Homo sapiens: one gene and its partner. The protein of the gene in region 1 purifies or fractionates together with the protein of each later gene. This does not show direct contact. Each region holds a gene or a part of one and is shown in the gene's direction. Other genes may lie near its edges.

What was found. The genes of interacting proteins can lie anywhere in the genome.
Region 2: the proteins of PARP9 (region 1) and PARP14 purify together in Homo sapiens (affinity purification with western blotting, with the first as the bait; one study listed by BioGRID). This does not show direct contact.

Annotation. Positions count from the first base shown.
Region 1 is NC_000003.12:122,550,801-122,554,300, reverse strand, and holds part of PARP9 (protein mono-ADP-ribosyltransferase PARP9), read left to right. Parts: intron 1-1,661; coding exon 1,662-1,883; intron 1,884-3,498; coding exon 3,499-3,500.
Region 2 is NC_000003.12:122,711,839-122,715,338, forward strand, and holds part of PARP14 (protein mono-ADP-ribosyltransferase PARP14), read left to right. Parts: intron 1-1,426; coding exon of another isoform or gene 1,427-1,437; exon of another isoform or gene 1,438-1,585; coding exon 1,586-1,735; intron 1,736-2,033; coding exon 2,034-2,096; intron 2,097-2,423; coding exon 2,424-2,591; intron 2,592-3,500. UniProt on the Homo sapiens protein: ADP-ribosyltransferase that mediates mono-ADP-ribosylation of glutamate residues on target proteins. In contrast to PARP1 and PARP2, it is not able to mediate poly-ADP-ribosylation.

The DNA of each region.
Region 1 (3,500 bases):
TGGACCAAGAAAGATTGCTTCAGAAGGTATGAGTTTTGAATGTGATCTCAAGTTTCGATGGGTATGATTGGCAGGAGGGGAAGCTTTCTGGGTGGTCAGAGTGACTTGATCAGAGAGATGCAGAGGAATTGACAGAAAATAATGGGCTTGACTACAGTCAGGAGACACAGGTGGAGCTCTAAGTCATAGTCTGTGTGTTTATACACAGAATATAACTCTGCCAGGGGCTGTGGAGAATGCAAGGTGCAACTAAGCATTTAGCTGGGGGTCACTGGGCACAAAGGTGAGGATGCTGGCAGGGAAGGGGAAGGAGTCAGGGTAGCGGTGAACCTAGGTATTTCTGAGTCAGTGCAGCTCCCCTGCTAGACGGAGAGCACCTTAAAGATGGAGATCTTGGCTTATTCATCCCTATAGCCTCAAGGCCTGGTCTGGGCATGCATCTAAGGGTTCAGCAAATTAAAGATAAATAAGTGGAGGGGGCAGGAGGGAGAAGGCACCACAACAGAGGGTGAGAATGAATATAAGGCTTTATTCTTTTTTTTTCTTCTGGATCAGTGATGTCACACTTAAGACTCTCGTGACCACAATCAAATAGTCTTAGACACTGGTAAAACAAACAAACCAATAACACTTATTGCCTATAAGACAATTAGAGGGAAGACTGAGGGGAGTTCATGAAATGAAATATTTGAGAAGTCATTAACACACAAATTTAAAACTAAAATGGAAGCATCCTAGTTGAGTAACTTATCCCTTTAACTGAATTTTTTAAGGTATATTTATTGCCAGCAACGTTAGGAACATTACAATTTTTAAAGGGTGTCGGTGCCCCCAAATTGCAAATTCTAATTGTGCTTTCAAAATGAAGCATTCATTAACATCAGTGAAGAAATACCTGAGTTACCCTGAAAGGGAGCCAAAGTCAATAGAATGATTAGGGGAATCTGGGCATGGGGGAAGGAAGGACACTATCATTTTTAGCACAGCTCTGAGGGTTAACTAGGAGACGATGTTATCTAAAGTACAGCTCATGTATATGTACAGTCTATTTCTGAAGAGAGAGATGAAGAACTTGGTTGCACATAAGATGGGTGGGTGAGTGGGGGGGTCTGGGAACCTGACCAAGAAGGGGACCTACTTTTCATTGAAGACCTTTTTGTCCCATTTGGAGTTTCTTTAACCTTGTTAAGTTTCTTATACCTTAAACCATAAAAACATTAGAAGGTGGAAATTCTCCAAGAAATTTTATTTCCTATTTAAAACGAGACAAAACAAAAACCCACGACGAAATAGCAAAAAGTCATGGTGGTCGGGCAGAGATGAAACCATTTATCGACAGAACTTAAAACAAATCACAGGGAATACTCAGAATCTAGCCATCTGGTAAGGTAATACAGCAAGGGGCAAACAGATGTTTGCAATGAAAATTATATCATCCGTACATTTACATAATTTCTGAATTATGTAATTCAGCTTCGTTCATGGCAATCAAATAATCACTCTTTGGAAATACGAGTTTCTATTCATTATTAATGAAATTTTTTAGAATTTAGGATCTTCAAAGAGTATTTTTCAAAGCTCTTCAGGGAAGTAAAGATTTAAATTAGTCATTTAAGAAGAAGGAATTTAACAATGAATCCTACCCTTTCTTCCCTTTTCAGGCAGATGTAATTGTTAATTCTGTAAACCCACATGATATTACAGTTGGACCTGTGGCAAAGTCAATTCTACAACAAGCAGGAGTTGAAATGAAATCGGAATTTCTTGCCACAAAGGCTAAACAGTTTCAACGGTCCCAGTTGGTACTGGTCACAAAAGGATTTAACTTGTTCTGTAAATATATATACCATGTACTGTGGCATTCAGAATTTCCTAAACCTCAGGTAAGTTTAAAATAAATGTGGCTTTATTTAGCTCCATAGTCTATACAGTCTTTTTTTTTTAAACAAATTTCCATCATTTCATTACATTCATGAAATATTTTGTCAAGTGGTATAGTTCTCAATTTTTAGCACACCTGCGAGTACCAGAAATACTGAACAGGTACAGTTGCCATAAGTTATCTTAAGAAGTTTGATTTAGGTCTGTCGCAGTGGCTCATGCCTGTGAGTCCAGCGCTTTGGGAGGCCAAGGTGGGAGGATCACTTGAGCCCAGGAGTCTGAGACCAGCCTAAGCAACATAGCAAGACCCCCATCTCTACCAAAAAGAAAAAAAAAATTAGCCAGGTGTGGTGGTGCACACCTGTAGTCCCAGCTACTCGGGAGGCTGAGGTAGGAGGATCACTTGAGCCCAGGAGATTGAGGCTGCAGTGAGCTGTGATCACACTGCTGCACTCTAGCCTGGGTGACAGAGACTGTCTCAAAAAACAAACAAAACAACAAAGAAGTTTAAAATGTTACCTAACCCATGTCTAAATTTTAAGTAGGCATACTGCAGATAGACACTGAAACTAGTATTCCCTCAGTCTGAACACTGGTTCACCCCAACATACCCAGTGACCTCGTTGGCCTTTTCCTAAGTAGGCAAGGGATTCAGCCTCTTATGTCCCTCCATGTGTTATATTCCTGGAGCAGCTGGGGTTCCCCCTCCAGCATCATTCCAATCAAATCTATTACCTGAGGTCTCTTCCCACCCATGCCTGCAGTGGAGCCTGGCTGTCTAGCCCACTCTCCACTGAGGCACATAAAATACAAGCATTAACGAACTCAGGAGGCAAAGGTTGCAGTGAGCCGAGATCGCGCCACTGCCCTCTAGCCTGGATGACAGAGTGAGACTCTGTCTCAAAAAATAAAATATAAAATAAAATAAAATAAAAGCATTAAAGAATAGGAGGAACCCACTCAGATGGTGAAAAGAGGGAAACTTAATCCCCTTCTCTGCCTTTGTCTATCTTTCTTCTTCACCATTTCTGGTCCCTTCTTGAGAGCTCTCTAATCCCAAACTGGTCCTCTAGTCTCCCTCTATCCCTCAGTTTTCCAAAGTCCTTCCATGGGCAACATTCCTGTATTACTTTGATGTTAACAGTTGGTAGAAATTTAAATCTGCCAAAAATATTAGCATTTCTCCAAGAGAAATTACATGATAGATCTTAATGATGTTGAATAAGTGCTGCTTTCTTATTTTAATCTCGATCTCCTTTATGAAAATTCAAGGGCTCTTGACGTTGACCTGGAAGGGGCAGGTGAATGGGGTAAACAGATGGTTGGCTCTCTGACCTGGGGGGATGGGTAAGGCTATATAAACTGGGAGAAATTCTAGTGCCCTCATGTCCTGAATAGCACAAGATGGCCACTCTATTGCTTCAGTTTCTCACCATCTAACCTTATACCATAATGGGTTCCCTCTGGAGTGGGACCTTTCCTGTCATCTGAGGAGGCAGGGACACGAACCCTGAGGGAGGGTGAAGGTGGACATTGTAAAATATGGGCAGGATCAAGGGGTAAGTGGAGTCTTGTTCTTGACTCAAATGCTGATCTTAAATTTGTGTTTTCCTGCAGAT
Region 2 (3,500 bases), 160 kb from region 1:
CATTTCCTCTAGAGTTTCTAGTTTGTGCATGTAAAGGTGTTCATAGCAGCCTTGAATGATCTTTTGTATTTCTGAGGCATTGATTGTAATGTCTCCAGTTTCATTTCTAATTGAGCTTATTTGGATCTTCTCTCTTCTTTTCTTGGTTAATCTCACTAATGGTCTATGAATTTTCTTTATCTTTTCAAAGAACCAGCTTTTTGTTTCATTTTTATCTTTTTTTGTTTGTTTGTTTGAGGTCTTTTTAAAATAGTTTCTATTTCTCTGCAGAGACATCCTATTTTTCCATTCATTCCACATCATTTCCATCCATTCAAATGTGTTTACTTTGACCTCATGGATCATAGTTATAGTAGATGCTTTAAAGTCTTCTATAATTCACATCTTTTTGGGATTCACATCTTTTTTTTTTTTTTTCTTTTTTCTATGGAGTCTTGCTCTGTTGCCCAGTCTGGAGTGCAGTGGTGCAATCTTGGCTCACTGCAACCTCCGCCTCCCGGGTTCAAGTGATTTCCTTGCTCAGCCTCCCAAATAGCTGGGATTACAGGCCTGTGCCACCACGCCCAGCTAAGTTTTGTATTTTTCTTTTAGCAGAGAGAAGGTTTTACCATGTTGGACAGGCTTGTCTTGAACTCCTGACCTCAAGTGATCCACCTGCCTCGGCCTCCCAAAGTGCTGGAATTACAGGCATGAGCCACCATGCCTGGCCAGGATTGACATCTTTTTTTTTTTGAGACAGAGTCTCACTCTGTCACTCAAGCTGGAGTGCAGTGGCACAATCTCAACTCACTGCAGCCTCAACCTCTGGGGGCTCAGGTGATCCTCCTACCTCAGCCTCCCAAGTAGCTGGGACTACAGTTGTGCACCACCATCCCAGCTAATATTTGTATTATTTGTAGAGATGGGGTTTCACCATGTTGTTCAGGCTGATCTCGAACTCCTGGACTCAAGTGATCCACCCACCTCGGCCTCCCAAAGTGCTGGGATTGCAGACATGAGCCATTGTGTCTGGCTGGATTGACAGCTTTTGATTTTCTTTATCCTTAAGGGTTGATCAAATTTTCCTGGTTCTTTATATAACAAGCAATTTTGGAATACAGACTTGACATTTTAAATATTATGTTGTGAGACTAGGGCCACCCTTGGGTCAAAGCTGGGAGAGAAAAGAGGAAAAATTTTAAAACAGAACAAAATGGAAAACTGCCCCACTTAGCAGATTGCTTCTGCAAGTTTTGGCACCTTTCTTCAATCTGTCTGCTGTTATTGTAACTTTTCAGAGCTCTTGGGTGGTGGCTTTTTGTATTTGTCCTGTTTTTAGTTGTAATCAACGGGAGAGATAGGCTATAGTACGCTAACTTCACCTTGGTCAGCACCAGAGTTCATGTTTGATATGGATTCTATGTTCTAATTCTTTTTTCTTAAACAGATCATCACTGAGGCTGAGGAGCAGGGCCAGGTTAAAGACCAGAGGTCACAGAAAGAGAGGGAGAGGGAAGACATCCAAGAGGGTCCCATGTGAGCAGGATACCCAAGTCATTCTTGCTGTGGCTGACTCGGTTATTGACTTTACTTCTTTTCTTTTCAGGTTTTTATGGGACTGTTTCTAGCCCTGATTCAGGTGTGTATGAAATGAAGATTGGCTCCATCATCTTCCAGGTGGCTTCTGGAGATATCACGAAAGAAGAGGCAGATGTGATTGTAAATTCAACATCAAACTCATTCAATCTCAAAGCAGGTACTTGTACAATTTTGATGAGTGCAATAGTTAATGGTAGATGCTATGAAGGAGGGTTTCTATAGCCAAACTGGTTTTTAGAACTTTGGCTTGTTAATTAATAACTTTTAAATTATGCTGACAGGGTTTTCCATAATTAATAATGTTTATTTTATGAAGTTTTCTTCTTTGTCATCAGCAATACCCAATTAGAGGATTCCTCAGATGATGGAGAATGCATTCAGATAATCCTTCTGATCCAAATATACCATAGTGGTTTTTTACTCATGTTTGTTATCATCTTGATTTTCTCATGTAGGGGTCTCCAAAGCAATTTTAGAATGTGCTGGACAAAATGTAGAAAGGGAATGTTCTCAGCAAGGTAAGGCATATTCTATTTTTTGGTCCTAAGTTGTAATTGTATGGGAGGCTGTGGAGAGGCTGAGAAAAGTCTTAGGGTTGGGGAGACAACACTCTAATTTTAAAATGATACATTTTACTAAAGAATTCCAATCACAGACACTTAGAAGTGAAAAGTAATCTCACAGTTAAAAGTAAAGTTAAGTCATAGCATTCCATCAAAGATAGTATTTCAGGAGTTTTTTTTTTTTCACAAAATGCTTACTTGCCAAGTTATACATTTTGCTTTCTAAACAAATGACGGGTTCAACTTCTACTAATTTTGCATCTTTTTGTCTGTGTTTCCCAGCTCAGCAGCGCAAAAATGATTATATAATCACCGGAGGTGGATTTTTGAGGTGCAAGAATATCATTCATGTAATTGGTGGAAATGATGTCAAGAGTTCAGTTTCCTCTGTTTTGCAGGAGTGTGAAAAAAAAAATTACTCATCCATTTGCCTCCCAGCCATTGGGACAGGTTCGTAGCCTCTGGCTGTCAAGGCTAAATCCCAAGCCATCTACTTTCCCTTTCATTTGGAGCTGAGTGTGAATGCGGTCAGTGCTGAGTCTGACCCAGGGCAGCAACCATTAAGCTAGGAGTGGACAGCTTCCTCCCCATAAGACAACTCCCAAGGGAATGACAAAGCCTGTGGATTGTTTGAGTAAAAGAGGGACAAAATGCAGGAGACTGAAGAGAGTGTTAGAATGTTAGAGAGGCAGAAAGAAGGGAAGGGAAAATAAGGAGGAGAAGAGAAGGGAGAGAGTGGAAAGGCCATCCCTCATTCTCTTTCCTCAGTTACTTTCCCTTTTTCCATTCCCTACATATTCTCCATTATGCAGTCCTTAGCTTCCTCCTCTTTCCCCTCTCCATGGAGAATATTAGTACAACAACTTCCACCTCACTCTAGCTGATTCCCAGAGGAATATTACCAGGCTTCAGCTCAACAGTCAGCTGTGTCACTTGGCCTCAGGGCATTTCTGTGTAGAAGCTTCTCAGTCACCAGAACCTAGTGGGTCAGAAACTCAACTCTCCACTTTCCTCTTTTCAGCCTACTTGCTTCTTTGATTTTCTTCTTTTCCTAAAACTAGGTAATGATAGCGTGATTTTTCATATATAAGGATGGCGCTCTGGATTTATCATTAATTAGGTGGTTTTTTTTTTTTAATTATACTGGGGTACATGGGCAGAATGTGCAGTTTTGTTGCACAGGTGTTCTTTGAGCTCTTTAGGAATCCCTGCTTGGTCTCCTTCAGAGAGCTGGTCAGGGGAGGCATGCATTCTTAGGCTTGAAGTCAACGGAGCTGCCTTGTTCCAGTGCGAGAATAGTCAGCATCGGATCTGTCATTCTGTTGCTCGGGAATCTAAGTTTGAATCTCTTATGCTGGC